Regions from separate parts of the Homo sapiens genome. Here region 1 is linked to region 2. The links come from fine-mapping of genetic effects on gene expression. A gene starts in region 2. The other region holds a variant in brackets. All regions are shown on one strand. Distances are from middle to middle.

The links. PIP is the estimated chance that this variant, and not a neighbour inherited with it, causes the effect. A credible set is the group of variants that fine-mapping cannot tell apart.
Region 1: its variant is the best candidate, but not a certain one, in a credible set for the expression of PHACTR1 in whole blood (TOPMed, PIP 0.59).

What each region holds. Positions count from the first base shown.
Region 1 is chr6:13,196,986-13,201,382 of GRCh38, forward strand. All of the region lies in intron 7 of PHACTR1 (phosphatase and actin regulator 1), which reads left to right. Among named protein-coding and RNA genes, the nearest start is that of TBC1D7, 130 kb to the right of the region's middle. The variant T/C (reference allele first, on the strand shown) is at 1,927.
Region 2 is chr6:12,715,007-12,719,403 of GRCh38, forward strand. It overlaps PHACTR1 (phosphatase and actin regulator 1), which reads left to right and starts at 1,761. Exons shown (of 15, transcript NM_030948.6): 1 at 1,761-1,890; 2 at 2,503-2,737; 3 at 3,693-3,841. The coding sequence starts at 3,739. The region is part of intron 1 of LOC107984015 (a long non-coding RNA gene); the gene reads right to left.

The sequences.
Region 1 (4,397 bases), 480 kb after region 2:
TGGAAAGCATCAGGATAGGTGGATTTTCAGAAGTGTGGTGAAAGCCCTATTAGCAACACTGCAGCTATATAAGGTACTTTGCAATTTACAAAGCACGTTCACGTGATCCTGTCTGACCCTCCAAACAACCTATGGCAGAGGTGGGGAATGTATTATGATGTTTGTCTCAGAATCAAGACTACATTTGCTGATCTCCTCTGATGCATCAAGGACTGTACGGGGGCTACTTTATACTCAGGCCTTCTGCTGACCTATATGGAGACTTTGTAAAATTAGAAAAAGTGCCCTGTAGAGGATGCCCCTTCCTCTAGAGTGAATCAGCCCCACACCAGGGCAGGCCTCAGGCTAGATTTCAACCCTAAGGTCCCCTCAGCACCTTGCATGGAGCTGTGTAGTTATTAATCTATTTACTTCTCATTACAGATCTATACTCTGGGCAATACTCCCTTTCTACAGATGAGAAAACTGAGGCTCAGGAAAGCTAAATGTCTTAGGAAGAGTAACAAAGTTTCTTGGTCTTGGAGCTGTACTTAAACCCCAGCTCTTCTGAGTTCCTTTTTTTTTTATTATTATTATTATACCTTAAGTTCTAGGGTACATGTGCACAATGTGCAGGTTTGTTACATATGTATACATGTGCCATGTTGGTGTGCTGCACCCATTAACTGGTCATTTACATTAGGTATGTCTCCTAATGCTATCCCTCAAGGATCTAGAATCATTCTTCTGAGTTCTAAGCCAGTGGTGGTTTCACCAGGACATTCTGCCCTCGGCCCACAGCAGAAGCCTCTGCACCTCCTTCCCAGCCCTCCCAGAGCAGTGCTGGGATAATCTCCTCCTCCACAAGGCTCTGGGCATTTGTTATTTTGCCTATGGAGGGAGTAGCCTCTTTGGAAAGGAATGCCTCTTTCAGGGGTGCTTCTCAGACTTGATAGATCAGCGTCCCCTAGAGATCTTGCCAGAGGGTCTGGGGTGGGCCCTGAGCATCTGCCTTTCTGATAAGGTCCCAGGCCATGTGGCTCCTGCTAGTCCATTGGCCACACTTTGACTCGCAGACCTTTAATACAGCAGAAACCAGTCACTGAGTTCCACCTTTTCCCGTTGCCCTGAAGACATGATGAAAAGATAAACAAACGTTTATTGGGTATCTACTATGCACTAGGCTTAGTTCATTCTAGCAGGTAAAACAGGAGGAAATAGCCACGCTCAGTGAAATTTAATAATTACTACATCACACATAGCCCTTGCAAGGAAAAATCAGCAACATGTTAAGAAAAATGAAAGGGATTGAATTGACTCAATAGGCAATGCTGTGACACAGGGAAGCACGAGGCCTTGGGGGTCCCATGGGCAGGCGCCTCAGCCAGCCTCGGGATGATGGGCTTCCTAAAGGAGGCAATTAATAATGAGGATGGTGATAGCATCAAGAATTATGGTTACTCTCTGTGGAATAACTGTCTGGAGTGTCTGGAGTGTCAGACGCTATGCCACACGGTTTATGTACTTTATTTAATTTTACAATTGTCCTATAACACAGGGGTGTCCAACCTTTTGGCTTCCCTGGCCCACATTGGAAGAAGAAGAATTGTCTTGGGCTACACATAAAATATACAAATACTAATGATACCTGATGAGTGAAAAAAAAAAAACGAAAGAAAAGAAAAAGATCCGTGCATAAATCCCGTCATGTTTTAAGAAAGTTTACCATTTTGTGTCGGGCCACATTCAAAGCTGTCCTGGGTCGCATGCAGGCCGCCGGTTGGACAACCTTGCCATAACACATTATTTCACAGATTGGAAAACTGAACATCAAAGAGATTAAGCAATTTGCTGAAGCCAACAGAACTGAATCAGTGCATGATTTTATAGTTTATCTTATACTTTTTAGACCAACAAATGTTGGTAATGATTTTGTGCCTCTTTGCC[T/C]GATGAGAACTTGCAGCACCAGGTGTCATTTCCATCCAGGTAGATCAGAGTGATCTGGGAGTTTGTTTACAAAGCAGATTCCTGGGCACCACTGTGGACTTATTGAATCTGAACTCTGAAGGTGAGGCCCGGGAATCTGCCTCTCCCAAGCTTCCCTAATGAGGCTGATGGAAACACTACTTTAAGAAGTTAGCTGCTGGGAGCAGTGGCTCACACCTGTAATCCCAGCACTTTGGGAGGCCAAGGCAGGTGGATCACGAGGTCAGGAGTTTGAGACCAGCTTGGCCAGCATGGTGAAACCCCATCTCTACTAAAAATACAAAAAATTAGCTGGGCTTGGTGGCGTGCACCTATAATCCCAGCTACTTGGGAGGCTAAAGCAGAATTGCTTGAACCTGGGAGGTGGAGGTTGCAGTGAGCCAAGATCACACCACTGCACTCCAGCCTGGGCGACAAAGTGAGAGTCCATCTCAAAAAAAAAAAAAAAAAAAAAAAAAAAAACATTGGCATCTTGAAAAGTGGATGCCATGCAGTAGAAGCCTGATCTACCCAATTCCCTTTGTCATCCTCACTATAAAAATGTAATCGCCTCACTAAACAGAAATGGGTACTAGATATATATTTCTTGGTTTGTTTAGTAAATTTACAGAGTGCACATAGGGTAAATAAAAAATCAGCAAGAAGGCAGAAGAACCTGAATGCTTTGAATCAACTATGTAGGAAAAGCTAATTGTTTGATGAAGTACTTATTGCTTGACACAAAATTTTGAAGAAAGGCTCTTTATGCAAACTTGTCTAAAACATCCTTAAAGTTTAGACAAGATATAGATAGAAATAGAATAAAAGATTTTATTTCTATAGATAGAAATAAAATAGAAAAATTCACCCACAAGGATATAAGACATCTTATCATTTACAAAAGGCTCAATGACAAATGATTTTTATAAAACTCAATTGGAAGTGCCATTAGACAAATTGGTTTAAGAAGTATCCTTTAATTGCACATTCTAATGTGGACAAGATAATCATTAGGTGAATAGATTTTAGGCAAATTAGCTTTTAATAAATTGGTTTAGGGAAAATTGCTCTTTTACTTTTTACATGTTGGGAGCATAGAAATAGAATCTGGAAATTATCCCAATGACCCCCCAGGATGGACATTGGTCCAGATGCTGGATGGAACTGATGCATCCTGGCCTTGAGTGCTGCAGTATCCCTGCCTCAGGCAGCACCATACACCAAGCGATTTAGCACCCTGAGCCAGTGATTCTCAGCTCCTTGTATATGCTGAGCATTTGGGAAGAATCTTTTTTTTTTGAGATGGAGTCTCACTCTGTCACCCAGACTGGAGTGTAGTGGCACAATCTCGGCTCACTGCAACCTCCACCTCCTGGGTTCAAGCGATTCTCCTGCCTCAGCCTCCCGAGTAGCTGGGATTGCAGGCACGTGCCACCACGCCCAGCTAATTTTTGTATTTTTAGTAGAGACGGGGTCAAAGTGCTGGGATTACAGGCACGTGCCACCACACCCGGCCAGGAAGCATCTTAAATCCAAATGTCTGGCCCAAAGATTCTGGTTCAGCAGGTCCAAAGTAAAGCCCAGGAACATGAAGTTGCATCAGGCAACTATTGCAGGTGTTCCAAGGACTCTGCTCTAAGAAATAGTGCCCTTTTGTTCAGAGAAAAGGACAAAAGTAAGAGGCCAAGAGTTATTTTTGACTGTGGCTTTTTACAAATGCAATGCTGGGCCAGGTGGCCAGCACTGGGTGGCCACCCACTTTGGGAGGCCGGGGTGGGTGGATCACCTGAGGTCAGGAGTTTGAGACCAGCCTGGCCAACATGGTGAAACCCCATCTCTACTAAAAATGAAAAAAAAAAAAATTAGCCAGGCATCATGGCGGACACCTGTAGTCCCAGCTACTCGGAGGCTGAGGCAGGAAAATCACTTGAACAACCCGGGAGCGGGAGGTTGCAGTGAGCTGAGGTTACACCATTGCACTCTTGCCTGGGCAACAAGAGCGAAACTCTGTCTCAAAAAAAAAAAAAAAGAAAAAAATTAAAAAAAGAAAGAAATATAATGCTGGAACCCAACCTAGAATCCCTGAGAAGAGGAATGAGCATCATTGTGATTCTGATGCACCCCCAGTCCTGGTCCTGAGGACCACAGGGCAGTGAGCACGTTCCATCATTGCCCAGCCTCAGAGTCCTGCTGCAGCACATGTAGGAGGAGCCATCCAGGAACTAGCTGGGAAGACAGGGCTGACCCAAATGGAGCCAGCAGTAACCAGCACAAAACAGAGCCAAATTCACTGGCGCTGCTGACCACCAGGGTTGTAGGAGTTAAGGGAGGAAAGGCTGCCAGAGGAAAGCGGGTCTTCATTTGCCGCTTGAGGGGCAAATGCAATTTTTATTATCAAGGAACAGGAAGGCATTTCAGGAGGTGAGTACAGCAAAGGCCCTGAAGAGAGAAGG
Region 2 (4,397 bases):
TTTCTTTCTTTTTTTTTTTTGAGATAGAGTCTTGCTCTGTCACCCAGGCTGGAGTGCAATGGCATGATCTCAGCTCACTGCAACCTCCACCTCCCAGGTTCAAGCGATTCTCCTGTTCAGCCTCCCAAGTAGCTGGAATTACAGGTACCCAACACCATGCCTGGCTAATTTTTTATATTTTTAGTAGAGATGGGGTTTCACCATGTTGGCCAGGCTGGTCTTGAACTCCTAACCTCAGGTGATCCACCCACCTTGACTTCCCATAGTGCTGGGATTACAGACATGAGCCTCTGTGCCCGGCCCCAAATACATTTCTTTAAGTTGAAATTTTCCCTCCTGAGTTTTCTTAAATTACGACCCTTTCATATTATTTGTTCACTTTGTAAAGTATTTTAAATTTCTCTTTCTTGGTCAACTCTCCAGAAATGACTGACTTCCAAATCCACCACCTACCCCCTGGGAATCAACTCTATTTTTCACATTTCCAGTTTAGCATCTCTTTCTTCAATCACACATTCATTTGCACTCACCTAAAGGTTTGGTCAGCAGCATAGACTTATACTCTCTCTCTCTCTCTTTCTCTCATCTATGAGTCATTACAATTTCAGTAGAATTACAATAACGAGTTCAGAACCTGTCGCCCACACCTCACAGTAAGTAAAAGGAACCAGAAGACAGCTTTCTCCTCTTATAAATGTCAAGTGTTCAGCATGTCTCCAGTGGGTGCTGAATAGAAAAGTAACCTTAAAGAAGTCAGTCCTTGGGTTGGAGCAAAGCTTTCAGAATTCAGAGTCCATAGTTGACTTTCCTACAAGGGCATATGATTGGTAGTTTCAGCTTCCTTTTTCATGAGGCTTAACTGTCTGCAGCACCGGCTTGGTGTCTGATCTGTTCTGATCGGGTGGGAGAGGGAGACCCCACAAAACAAACAGCAGAGGATTTTCAGGTTTGTTTCAAGGGCAGCCAGCCGAGCTGTGTATAGGGAGTGGGGGGACAGGGGTGGTGTTGATGGTCTTCCTTCCGAGGCTTATCAAATGTAAATGCTCTTTTCTTAACAAGCTGACCCACTGTACACCACACCATACTAATGAGCAATTCTGCTTGGTCAACAAAGGGTGCAAGAGGTTGTGGAAAACCCACAGTAGGGCTTGCATTTGGCTATCACTATGCCCTGCATGAAGATCTCAAAGTACTGTGCCTAAAAGTCATTACTGAGGTTTGGTAGGAAGAATATTAAACCAGAATAACTTGAGATACTAGCCAAAGTTTATTTTTGTTGTTGGTATTATTTTGTTACATTCAGACAGAGAGAAATGCATTTAGGCAGACTGGCATGATCTGCGCTGGATATTTGACCAGGCAATCAGAAGCAAGGAAAGGAAGAAAGCCAGGCAAGAGGGAAGGGGTGACATCAAACGTGCCCTCTGTATTTCGCTCCAGAAAACAGCTCACAATTATGACTACCTGCCTTGTTTTGCAGCTCAGCATAAAAGTGGTGTTGCACCAAACCCTACTGGAGCAGCCTTCATGATTAGAAAGTACTCCACACCTTGGAGAGCTGAGGAGACATGAGAATAATTTTAAATGCAAATTAAATTGAGGGGGTAGCAGAGAAGAACACATAAAAGACAGTAAAACAAAACCTTTCAATTTTCTTAAATTAGCAGTCTAATGTGTTCTAAAGAGCAGCTCCACTCAGATCTCTTCTTAAGGGTTGCATTTCATCACAGTATAAATGGGCAAATCCATCACTTCCCTCTGCTCAGTGCTCTTGAAGCGAGATTGAAGGGAAAATTAGAAGCTGTTCATTTGTGCTTGCGGGCTCAGAAGCGTCGCACTGCTTTGTTTTGTACTCTACCGTGTCCTGTTGAAAGGGGTCAACAAGTGCCGGTGAGTATCCGCTAACTTCCAGACTCTTCCTTTCAAATATCTTTTTGGCTAATTTTCCTTTGCCGGGGATGGGGGTTGTGGGGGGAGTGGGGATCTCCCACAAAATCTATGCTATAATATGTCTTTCAGAATCTGGGAAATTTCAGACAGCTTTTTAAGCTTCTTCCAGTGACTGATTTGCAGAAGGGAAGAGTTATTTTCAGCCTAGATGCCGGTGGCTGTTCTGTGTATTAATTATAACAGGGGAATGTCTAACGTATGTTAAGCTAAAATGGCCTTTCCCTAAACTCCCCCATTCCCTGCCACTCTTAGGCCAGCATTAGGGTAATAACTGGTGCCCCCACAAAAATTTCTAGACAACTTTTCTATATATTAAATTTTTAATCATTTCATATTCTATTCTTTTGTAGCTGCAAATCAAACTAAGATTTGGGATTATGAAAATAAACAATGAAGACATAAATCTGTTTTGTTTTTTTTTTAATGACTATGGCACTTCTCTGCCTAAGAGATAGGGGGCTGGGGAATAGCCCTGCATGATGTATGCATGTGGATTTGATGATTTTCTGCCAAAGTTTTACACGGGAAACTGGTAATTTTCTCCCTTCGCAGGGGAGGGTGCAGAGGCTGAGGCTGGCGTCACCTTCCGTTGCTAAGGTAACGTGCTCTGGCCATTTTATCTGATAAAGGAAGTCCAGTGGACTGTATGCATTATTCATCACTGTTCTAATCAAACAATCAAAATCGTTTACTTTCACCGGGAATATTTAGCAAGATCAAAGACACTCTGGCTGGAACGGCTCTTGTTTTACCGCTGACAGATAGCCTTTGATTTTTATTTTTTGCAGTAAGTATATTTGCTATTGGGGTACCTTTGGGTATTTTTAAAAGTTTTGTCTTACCGGACTTGGTTTCTTAAATTAAAATACATACTGTTAGAAAGAGAAACCAATTGGATTAGACTTCCAAGCTTGGTTTTAATGACTTTGTCTTGTTAATTCTTTCCAAAAAAATATTCTGCAGAAATAGAGATAATTCATTTGTGTGAGTATCAGGGAAAGGCTACATAGGCTTGAAAAAAGAACCCAACAGGCTGAATGTTTTCTGGGGAAGTATATTAGCTTTGTGACAGGCTAGTGTATGATAATATAGGGATCACTGTAATGCTGCAATCATTCTTGCTGCTCTACAAACCACAATTGTTTCTCAAAAATCAGCCCCTGCCAGGCACAGGCAGGTGACGATCCTCTAGCACTTTATAAAATGTGCTGAAGGGAATCGCCGGAAAGGAAGGAATTCAAAGCATTTGTACAGCAAATATGTCAGTGTGTGTCATAAACGCACGGCATCTATGAGTGGAGGCTCGGATTCCCAGGCAATTTTCCCTGCTCCAGGGGAATCCGAAAGTCCCAGGATGAGCTGAGGATCAACACTCACAACGGCTGACACTTAATGACGCTATTTATCAAATAGACCTTTTGAAAACTGATAGCATGTGAATTTAACAGTATATGTTCCAGAGAATATAAAGCAAGGAAAGGCTGGTATGTTATCTCTCTTTAGATCAGATCATCTGTTTTTCCTGAGTAGAATATATTACTTTTAATGAATGTTGGCTAAATGCGGCATTTTCTCACACGGTAGGAAAGCTATGCTGGGGGGTGGCTTTAGAATTGCAAATGTCAATCAAGTAGTAGAATATTATAATGGGATATTCTTATTCAAACATTTTAAAGTACATCTATATATACACTTTATACTTGACGTCTAAAATATTGTGGATTTTTTTTTCCTCTTTATAGGTGTTCCAGTGTTTTCTCTCAAAACTCTGTGTTTGGAACATCAAGGATGGATTATCCCAAAATGGATTATTTTCTGGATGTAGAGTCTGCTCACAGACTCTTGGATGTTGAGTCAGCTCAAAGATTCTTCTACAGTCAAGGAGCTCAAGGTAATAAAATAAGAAAAAGAAATTCCTCTTATTTGCACGTCGGTTTTATATGAACAGCCATGTAGGCTGTAGCTGTTAAAGCCTTGCTCTGAAAGTTTAATAACCGGTATTTCTAAGTTGATAACCTCTACCAAACTGCTGCTGGAATTGAGGCAGGTATATAATAGAATAAATAAATCCACACTTCTTGGATGTGGTTAAAAAAATGCCCAACTTTTGGTGTAAGTGCCCCTCAGAAAGCTATGTTAGAAATGATTTCCTACCACCTGTGTCCAACACTTATGTCCAAAAAGAATCAAGAATGCTCTTCCCCTTGGAGAATTTCCAGTTTGCAGCCACAGCTCTTGAAATCTTAGGGCATCATGACCCAGTGGACTGGAATCCAGCAGGATTAGGGGCTCTTGAGAGAAGCGCTGAGCTTCTCTATAGCTGCCTTCTCTATTTTAGCTGAATTCAGTTACCGCCTCAGATAATTACTAGTGTACATTCAGGGAGCAAGCCTCTTGGGAAGTGTGGTTGATGTGTCCGTTTTTATTACATGTTTCAAGATGGTCAG